2 linked regions of the Homo sapiens genome follow. The protein of the gene in region 2 purifies or fractionates together with the protein of the main gene of each other region. This does not show direct contact. Each region holds a gene or a part of one and is shown on either strand. Other genes may lie near its edges.

The links. The genes of interacting proteins can lie anywhere in the genome.
Region 1: the proteins of PRIM2 (region 2) and POLE fractionate together in Homo sapiens (co-fractionation; one large-scale study listed by BioGRID). This does not show direct contact.

What each region holds. Positions count from the first base shown.
Region 1 is NC_000012.12:132,645,070-132,649,342, forward strand, and holds part of POLE (DNA polymerase epsilon catalytic subunit A), read right to left. Parts: coding exon 4,237-4,273; intron 4,004-4,236; coding exon 3,860-4,003; intron 1-3,859. UniProt on the Homo sapiens protein: Catalytic component of the DNA polymerase epsilon complex. Participates in chromosomal DNA replication.
Region 2 is NC_000006.12:57,533,500-57,538,607, reverse strand, and holds part of PRIM2 (DNA primase large subunit), read right to left. Parts: intron 1,169-5,108; coding exon 983-1,168; intron 1-982. UniProt on the Homo sapiens protein: Regulatory subunit of the DNA primase complex and component of the DNA polymerase alpha complex (also known as the alpha DNA polymerase-primase complex) which play an essential role in the initiation of DNA synthesis.

The DNA.
Region 1 (4,273 bases), on a different chromosome or scaffold from region 2:
CTGGGAGAGCTGGAGAGGGGCACCCTAGCTCCCTGTGTGGGGTCCTGGGGGGGTCTGGGAGAGCTGGAGAGGGGGCACCCTAGCTTCCTGTGTGGGGTCCTGGGGGGTCTGGGAGAGCTGGAGAGGGTGCACCCTAGCTTCCTGTGTGGGGTCCTGGGGGGTCTGGGAGAGCTGAAGAGGGGGCACCCTAGCTCCCTGTGTGGAGGGCTGGGGGAATTCTGGAGAGGCGAGCTGGAGAGGGGTACCCTAGCTCCCTGTGTGGAGGGCTGGGGGAATCCTGGAGAGGAGAGCTGGAGAGGGGGCACCCTAGCTTCGTGTGTGGGGGGCTGGGGGAATCCTGGAGAGGAGCACCCTAGCTTCATGCATGAACCAGCAGCACAAGTCCCAGGCTCACTACGAGCTGCACTTGCACAGGTGACCCAAAACAACGCAGCAGAGGCTCTGGAGGCTGAGCTGACATTGGAAGCTTTGCACAAAGAGGCAAGGAAGAGCTTGGGCACTGGAATTAACCGTGTTGGTTGTTGCTAAAACAAACAAACAAAAAAACCTGACACGCTAAAGGATTTTTAAAAATACCCAAAGTCTCAAATATGTAAAATGTCCAGGTTGCAATAAAGCGTTATTTGGCGTAACAACAACCAGGAAAATCTGAATAATTCTCAAGCGAGAAGAGAACCAGTAGGGTTAGATTTTTCCAGTAACATGAAATTAGACCGACACACACACACACCCACACACACACACACAAAATCAAAGAAATGAAAAATTATGTTCTGGTAAATATGAACTGGAACAATTAGTGTAATTGCACTTTTTAAAATGTATATATTTCCTGGCTGTTCACTGAAGGAATCTAGATGAAATGATACCCCTTGAGCTCTAAGCTTGGTTTCTCAACATAACCTCTCAACGAGGCTCAGGCTCTTTAGAGGAACAGCTAATTCCACGTCTGGAAGTTCAAGGTGAGCCTGGCCTCTCTTAGTGGCCAAAAAGCAAGGAAGTTTTCAAAGACCAACAGGGCATGTCAAAAGGACTCAGGTGCCAGCTTGAAGGGATCTGGCCAGCCCAATTTGGGATAATTTGAGTCTCAAGAAGATATTGACCACCAAAGAGTCTACTGTCTGGTTCCATTAATATGAAGTTCTAGAAAGTCACATGCACACAGTTACAGAAATACAGAAATCAGGCCAGCAGAAGGTTGCACAGGGGGACAAGAGCACCCTCCCGGGTGATGGAAACGTTCTGCACCTGGGTGGGGGTGTGGGTGACACAGGCATAGTCATGTGTCCAAAAACCCAATCAACTGCACATTTAAAAATCTGCACTTAACTATATGTAAATTACAGTAAGTCCTCACTTAACATCAATGGATTCCTGGAAACTGTGATGGTTAAGTGAAGTAATGTATAGCAGGTCCTCAAATAACATCATTTTGTTCAACATTCTTTCTTCCTTTAAAAAAAAAAAAAAAAAAATTCTGGGGCCGGGCGCCATGGTTCAACCTGTAATCCCAGCACTTTGGGAGGCCGAGGTGGATGGATTACCTGAGGTCAGGAGTTCGAGACCAGCCTAACCAACACAGAGAAACCCCATCTCTACTAAAAAATACAAAATTAGCCGGGCGTGGTGGTGCGTGCCTGTAATCCCAGCTACTTGGGAGGCTGAGGCAGGAGAATTTCTTGAACCCGGGAGGCGGAGGTTGCGGTGAGCCGAGATGCGCCACTGGACTCCAGCCGGGCAACAGGAGAGAAACTCCATCTCAAAACAAACAAACAAACAAATAAAAATAAATAAATTTAAAAAATACTCTGTAGAGAAGGGGTTTTGCCACGTTGCCCAGGCTGGTCTCGAATGCCTGAGCTCAAGCAATCCACCAGCCTCAGCCTCCCAAATTGCTGGGATTACAGATATGCAGCACTGCGCCTGGCCAACACAGTTTCATTATAGTTTCTGAGAAGAAAAAAAATCTGTTTCATTATACATCATCTTACTTAGTCATTTCACTTAAAATTGCAGTTTCTAAGGACCTATCAACAACATAAAGTGAGGGCCTACCGTGTACCTTAACATACCTAACGTGTGTGTGTTGGGCGGGATTTGGCTACGGTTGATGTTAAAACATTAAACACTGAGGCAGGAGGATTGCTTGAGCCCAAGAGTACAAGGCTGCAGTGAGGCAAGATCATGCCACTGCACTCCAGCCTGGGTGATGGAGTGAGAGACCTTCTCAAAAACAGAAACAAAAAAGTTAAACAAAAATCCTCTAATCCATAGTAATACTTTAAAAAGAGAGGAAAAATGAAAGGAATAAACCCATTTTGCCATGCCCTACCTTGAAAATTAAAAATAATTTAAAGGGAAAAAGCATTTATCTTGCTTAAAAAAAAAAAAAGCGTATTATCCCTCTCGTATCTTGCTTTTTAAGGAATAGAGTTCATTTCTACCTGATCTGCACAAAGCTCTTCGTTATAAAGGAAACAGCTAATACACACAGAGGAACAGAATCTGAAGATATCATCCTGGAGCCCCATGGACCCCACGAGACATGGATGCTGACACCATCCAGTCAAACGTTGAGGACAGAATATTCACACAGCGCCAGAACCTCCCTCGAGATGAGCTGATAGTCATAAAGGGAAACATCCCAAAAGTTAGGGCACTTCCACACGGCCACAGCACCACAGCACCACGCATCGAAAGGAAGGTGTAGAAACCCCACAGTCCCACCTGTTCTCTGTGGTCTCGATGCCTCTGCGTCCGCTTTCCTCTTGTTATCCGCCCACCTCGGTCTCCCAAAGTGCGGGGATTACAGGTGTGAACCACCACACCTGGCTCTGCGTCTACTTTCTATATGCACATTCTACTGAATCACCTGGCTGGAATCGAGTTTCACCTTCTCCAGAAAACCTCCTTGTGTAGGTACAAATATGCACACCTCATCTCCCCAACTACGTGTCACTTCTTACGTGATTCACAGCATCCAGTCAAGAAATGTGCTGAGCCGACACATTAACAACGGGGAGTTCGGGTGGAGATGCCATCTAAGAGCCTCAGCGCACTCATGGCCACATGAAAACCCTCGCAGTTTCTGCAGGTGGAAGAAGCCCAGCACAAAGACCCACCTACTGTAGGGTTCCATTTACATCAAATGCCCAAACAGGCAAACCCAGAGACAGGAAGTGGATCAGTGGCTACTGAGGGCTGGGGGAGGATGGTGACAGGTAAGGGATGCCAGGTTTCTTTTTGGAGTGATGAAAATATCCGAATGGGGGGGTGAGGGGAGGGGGAATATCAGGATAAACAGCTAATGCATGTGGGGCCTAATGCCCAGGTGACGGGGTGATGGGTGCAGCAAACCACCATGGCATGTGCTTACTTATGTAACAAACCTGCACTTTCTGCACATGGATCCCAGAAATCAAAGTAAAATTAAAAAAAAGAAAAAAAAAGAAAATGTCACTATTGACTGGCAATAGTCATGCCACTAAAAGTCATTGAATTCTGCACTTTAAATGGGTGAGTTGGATGGCGTAACTTTACATCCCAATAAAGCTGTTAACAACCAAAGAGCCTACGGAGACAGAGTTCACAATCTCTAACCAATGCCACTTGGTTTGTCCCCGCAACATGGACCTCGCGGGCAGACAAGCTCATCGTGACAAGGACACCAGCAGCTCCATTCCCGGCACTCGCTCTGCCCCAGGCTCGGTGCTCAGCGCTCACACACGTTGTTTTGAGGAATTCCTAGAACATCCCCATAAGGTACTGAGGAGATGGAGGCTGGAGGCCAGGCTAGATCATGGGAAAGCCACCTCAGGCTGCCCAGATGACTGCAGAGGCAGCACCAGCTCCTCCCTACCTTGCGATACGAAGCACCCTCCTCCGCTTTAGCGACTCGCTGGTTCACGTAGAACACACGGGGGATGCTCAGCCTGATGCAGTGCAAGTCACTGCCAACGAGCGCCCACAGCCTGAACAGGCCGGCCTGGCTGGTCTCGCTGATCTGAAAGGCCACACGGACATACAGCACATCACAGGACACACTGGAACCCACAGACGGGGCCACCTTCCAGGTAGCTTGCAGCTCCCAGCACAGGGCCTTAGGCCTCCCTACGATGGGCAGGAAACTCCAGGCCCACTCTAACCCTCCCATCCCAGACCTCAGGGCCCAGCTGGACACCCCCTCCCTGGGCCATCAGCAGAGCCACTGCCCTCCCCTTGGATCAAGGTCTATACCTGCACAATCTGCCACGGAAGGTCCAGGATGCTGCGG
Region 2 (5,108 bases):
TAATAAAGTACTATAAAATGTACCTGGTAAATATTCTTTCTTCCATAATTTACTTTTAGGAGGCAGCAAATCAAGAAATAAACAGTAAAAAATGTTCTTCATACCACAGTGTCATGGCATAGAAGGGGCAAGAAATCATATTTCCAAGTAAAATGTTATTAGCTGGCACTATTAAAGAGAAACAAGGCATAGGATTGGGAATATAAGCACTGCAGATAGGGTTTTTAAAAAGTTGTTCAGGTTTATAGTAATTATTGTCCATCTAAAAATGTTCTATAGGCTAGGTATGATGACTCAGGCTCACAGCTGTAATCACAACCCTTCAGCACGCCAAGGCAGGAGAACAGCTTGAGCCCAAGAGTTTGAGACCAACCTGGGCAACATAGTGAGACTCCATCTCTACAAAAAATTAAAAAAAGAAAAAAATTAGCCAGGCATAATGGTGTCCACCTGTGGCCCTAGCTACTGGGAAGAATGAAGTGGGAGGATCACTTGAGCCCAAAGGTCGAGGCTGCAGTGAGCCATGATTGCACCATTGCACTCCAGCCCAGCCTGGGCAACAGAAGAAGACCCTGTCTCGAAAAAAAAAAACAAAAGTTTATAAAAGATTCTGCATAACATAATAGAAAATATTTTAAATTGTTCCATTTTATTTGTTCATGATATCTCCCAGTGCTCAAAACATTATGTGCATATGTATAGACACACATACATTCCTACAGATATATAACTCTGAAAGCAATTTCAGTCTTATAATTACTACTGGCAGTATACCTACAAATGAAAACATTCCTTCCCCAATCTTTTGTATTAGATTAATATGCAAGTTTCTTTTTATCTAAACTGAATTGTCAACACATTTATCCTTTTAGAATTTTCAACTACATTGCAGGGAGCATATTTAAAAAAAAAAATAGACCGTTTCATTTTCAGACCAAATTAAAATATCAGGTACCACTCTGATATTTTTTTTCAAAATTACCTTGTCTGGATCCATCTTTCCTTTGATAAATTCTTGCTTCCAGAACTGCAATGCCTGTTCCAAAGTTAAACCAATGCCCTTCAGAAATAGGCCATACTGCATTCGGCCTCCATGACGAAGATGGTGATTTTCCCGCAAGGCTTTATGTAACTGACGCATGCAAGGTGGGAAGGATTTGGTAGAAAGCTACAAGAAAAAAATAGTAGAGTTTTAAGTTAAGTGGAAGACTTATCAGGTCCCCTGTAATATTTGTTATGGTTCCTAATTCAATTTAATTGGAATAAAAAAAAAACACCATAAGAAAGTGCCACTTTATTACTGTGGTTACAGATGACTCTTATCTGTATAAGATGTTTCTTATTAACATTTTTTACTGGTTACAAGTTAATATAATATTTTAGATACTTTGGATTAAATAACATACTATTAAAATTTATTTTACCTGTTTTTTTAATTTAATTAAACTTTTTCTTTGAAGTTAACTACAGACTCCCATACAGTTACAAGAAATAATACAAAGAGATAGCATATATCCAAATTCCCCCAAAGATAAAATCATATACAACTACAGTAGATTATCACAAACAGGATACTGACATTGATACAATCCACTAGTCTTATTCAGGTTTCCTCAGTTGTACTCATGCACTTACTTCCGTATTAAATTTTATACAGTTTTGTCACATGTAGGTTCATACATCCACCACCACAGTCAACATGCAGAACAGTTCTGTCACCACAAGGATCTCTCATGATTTTATAACCACCCCCATCTATCTTTTGCACCCTGCTCCCCTCCCTCAGCTCCCTAATCTTTGGCAACCACTGATCTGGTTCTCCATCTCTATAATTTTGTCATTTCAAGAGTATAATAGAATCATATAATATGTATTGTTTTGAGATTGTCATTTTTTACTCAGCAGAATTCCCTCAAGATTCATCTAAGTTGTATATAAGCTCATTTCTTTATTACTAATAGTTTTCCATGGTATGAATGTATCATAATTTATTTATTCACTCATTGAAGAACACTTGGGTTGTTTCCAGTTTGGGCTATTTCAAATGAAGGTATTATAAGCATTCTTGAAGAGGTTTTTATGTGAACATAAGATTTCATTTCCCTGAGATAAAAGTACAATTGCTGAATAGCAGATGAACTTTTAAGATAACTCAAATACAAAGCAGAATACAAAAATAAGAGAAACTTCTCATAAGGAAAATTCAAATAAATATGTTAAAGAAACCAAGTTAAAAGGAACAAAGTGTAGTTAGTGCCTTAGTGCCAAAAATGAAATATCATTGCCTACTTTAATTTTTCACTTACGGTTTCAATTGCATTCTCTATGACTTCCTTAAATATCCTCCCAAGACTTAAATTCTTACTCCCTCACATATGCCTTAGCAAGTTCACTTCATCTATAAGAAAGAGCAGGTCTCACTTTGCTTGACTTTGCTGCTCCCTCTAGTGACCATCTAGTTTCTCTTCATTCTTTTACAGTAACAACTTCTGATTTTTTCCATCCCCAGTCTAGTTCATTCAGACCTATATCCTCCCTTGGTTCTATATCTAGAACTAACTAGAAAGCCTTTCAGCTCCTTTTCATGAGACCATTTTTGTTCCTTCATATTAATATCTGATTTTTTTCTAAACATTGTTCTAATCCATACAATCAATATTCAACATCCTTAGTATGAACATGCAAGGTTTCCTCAATATCTGGTAACTACCTTTCTTTTTTTTTCTTCTTTTTTTATTTTTTTGAGATGGAATCTCACTCTGTTGCCCAGGCTGGAGTGCAGCAGTGCCATCTCGGCTCACTATAACCTCTGCCTCCCAGGTTCATGCGATTCTCCTGCTTCAGCCTCCTGAGTAGCAGGGATTACAGGTGCCTGCCAACATGCCCAGCTGATTTTGGTATTTGTAGTAGAGACAGAGTTTCACCATGTTGGCCACGCTGGTCTCGAACTCCTGACCTCAGGTGATCCTCCCACCTTGGCCTCTCAAAGTGCTAGGATTGCAGATGGCATGACCCACTGCGCCTGGCCAATAACTACTTTTCAATTATACATAACAGAACAATTATTTATTAAGTGTTCTGGAAAATAAGCTAGGACCTAATTGTCCCCTTTAATTCAGTTAAGGAAAAAGACACCACAATTATTATATTCACTACTATGTAAGTTAAACACATGAAATAAATGATAAAATGAGGGCTCCAACAAGGGCAAAACTTGAGCACCACAGAAGCACTGTGACAGGGAGCCTGGGAAAGCCCAGTATATTATTACTACACCAAAATGAGTCCTCGGCTCCAGTCCACTGGATTATTCAATATCCCATGACCACGCAGTCATGCTCTGTAGCTTCTCATTTTTCTCACTCTGCTAGCCCTGCCTGGTGCACCCTTCTCATGCACATGCCATGTAGCCAAAGCCAAGTCATCATTCAAGACCCACCTCAATTTCTATTTCTTTTGGCACATTCCTTGATTACTTCTTATTCATTCAATCAACAAATATTTATTTAACACTTACTATGTGTACAGCCCTGGGGAACCAGTAGTGAACAAAGAAGTCAAAAACCCTGTCCTCGAAGAGCTTATTTTTAATAGGAGGAGACGGACAATGAATACAGACATTAAAAAGATAACATCTGATGCCAAAACACTGGAAATGAAATAGAGAAATGAAATCAAGTGTGATTAGGGGAGAGGTACTTCAATTTGGGTGGCCAGGGAAGCCTTTTTGAGGAGATGGCATTTCAAGTAAGACAAAGTAAGTTGGATTCTAGTGAAATGAAGATCCTGAGAAGGAATAAATGTGGTGTGCTAAAAGAGAGAATAAGATCCATGTGACCAGAGCAAGTGAATGAGCCGGAATGGAGCAGAAGATAAAATAGAAATGATGAGCACATATGGCTTCAGAGGCCACAACATGAGTTTGGATTTAAGTCTACATATGATAAAAACCCACTAGAGGGTTCTGACCAGAAGACTGATGTGATTCAATACACAAAGAGAACTCTGGCTGTTATGTAGTGAAAAGACTATATGAGAGTAAGAATGGAAGCAGGAGGGATACTTAAGAGGTGTGGGCAGTAGTCCAAATAATAAAAATTAAAAAGATAGTGTCTGGCTATATACAGATAGAAAAATGATCATGGAAAACAAGCAAACAAAAGAATCATAAGTCCAGGATAGGGGATAAATTATCAACTTGGATCTTGCAGAGGCCAAGAACAATAACAACAATAGCGCCAGTACACAAGACCATTAGCTAGGTGTTCAAATCATCAACGAATACAGGTGTGGGGGGAGGGGGTCGAATAGCAACAAAGGAGGTATCAGATGATATAATAAGATCACAAGGGCTTTAAAGGAGCTGGAGCTGTAACAATGGAAGGCAGAGAAATGCGGACCAAGAAAGACACTCACCGCATACCTATATATGAACTCGGGGGGAAAGTTGTCTCTACTTGAAGAGGCCCACAGCGGAAACAGCATTGAGAAAGCCAGATTTGTTAGAAGAAAAAACTAAAGAAAACATTTGGAGAAGAGTTGCAAATACCAAGGGATATGCAAATGACATGCTGTTGTGAAGATCAAACAATATAGATACAGAGTTAGGAGGCAGTCCAGAAAAAGATACATCTGTATTACTCACCACGGGGTCTCAGGCACAGACCCATGACAGGATCATCATCATAGCACTTAACATTATATTGCTCATTTATTATTTATTATGTTGTCCCTCTCCCTCATGTAAGGTCCATGAAGGCAGGGACATTTTCTGTTTTCCTCACTTCTGTATCCACAGCACAATGGCTGCTACATAACTGATGGGCTCAATACATATCCATTAAATGAATTAATATTTCTATGAACTCCAACAGTATCCAATGAAATTCACATTTGCTTGTGAATAGGGAAACATCTAGCTAGAACTAAGAACAGAATTAACCTCCAACCATTCACATTATATAAGCACAAATCACATGAGTGGAAGTGAGAAAGTGGACTGTTAGAGATAAGTGTTTAATAAAAAAATTAAAAGATGGGACATCTTTGAGAACAAATTTCAAATCAACAAATCAACTGTGTAAAGTAGGCAACCCTACTGTTATTTC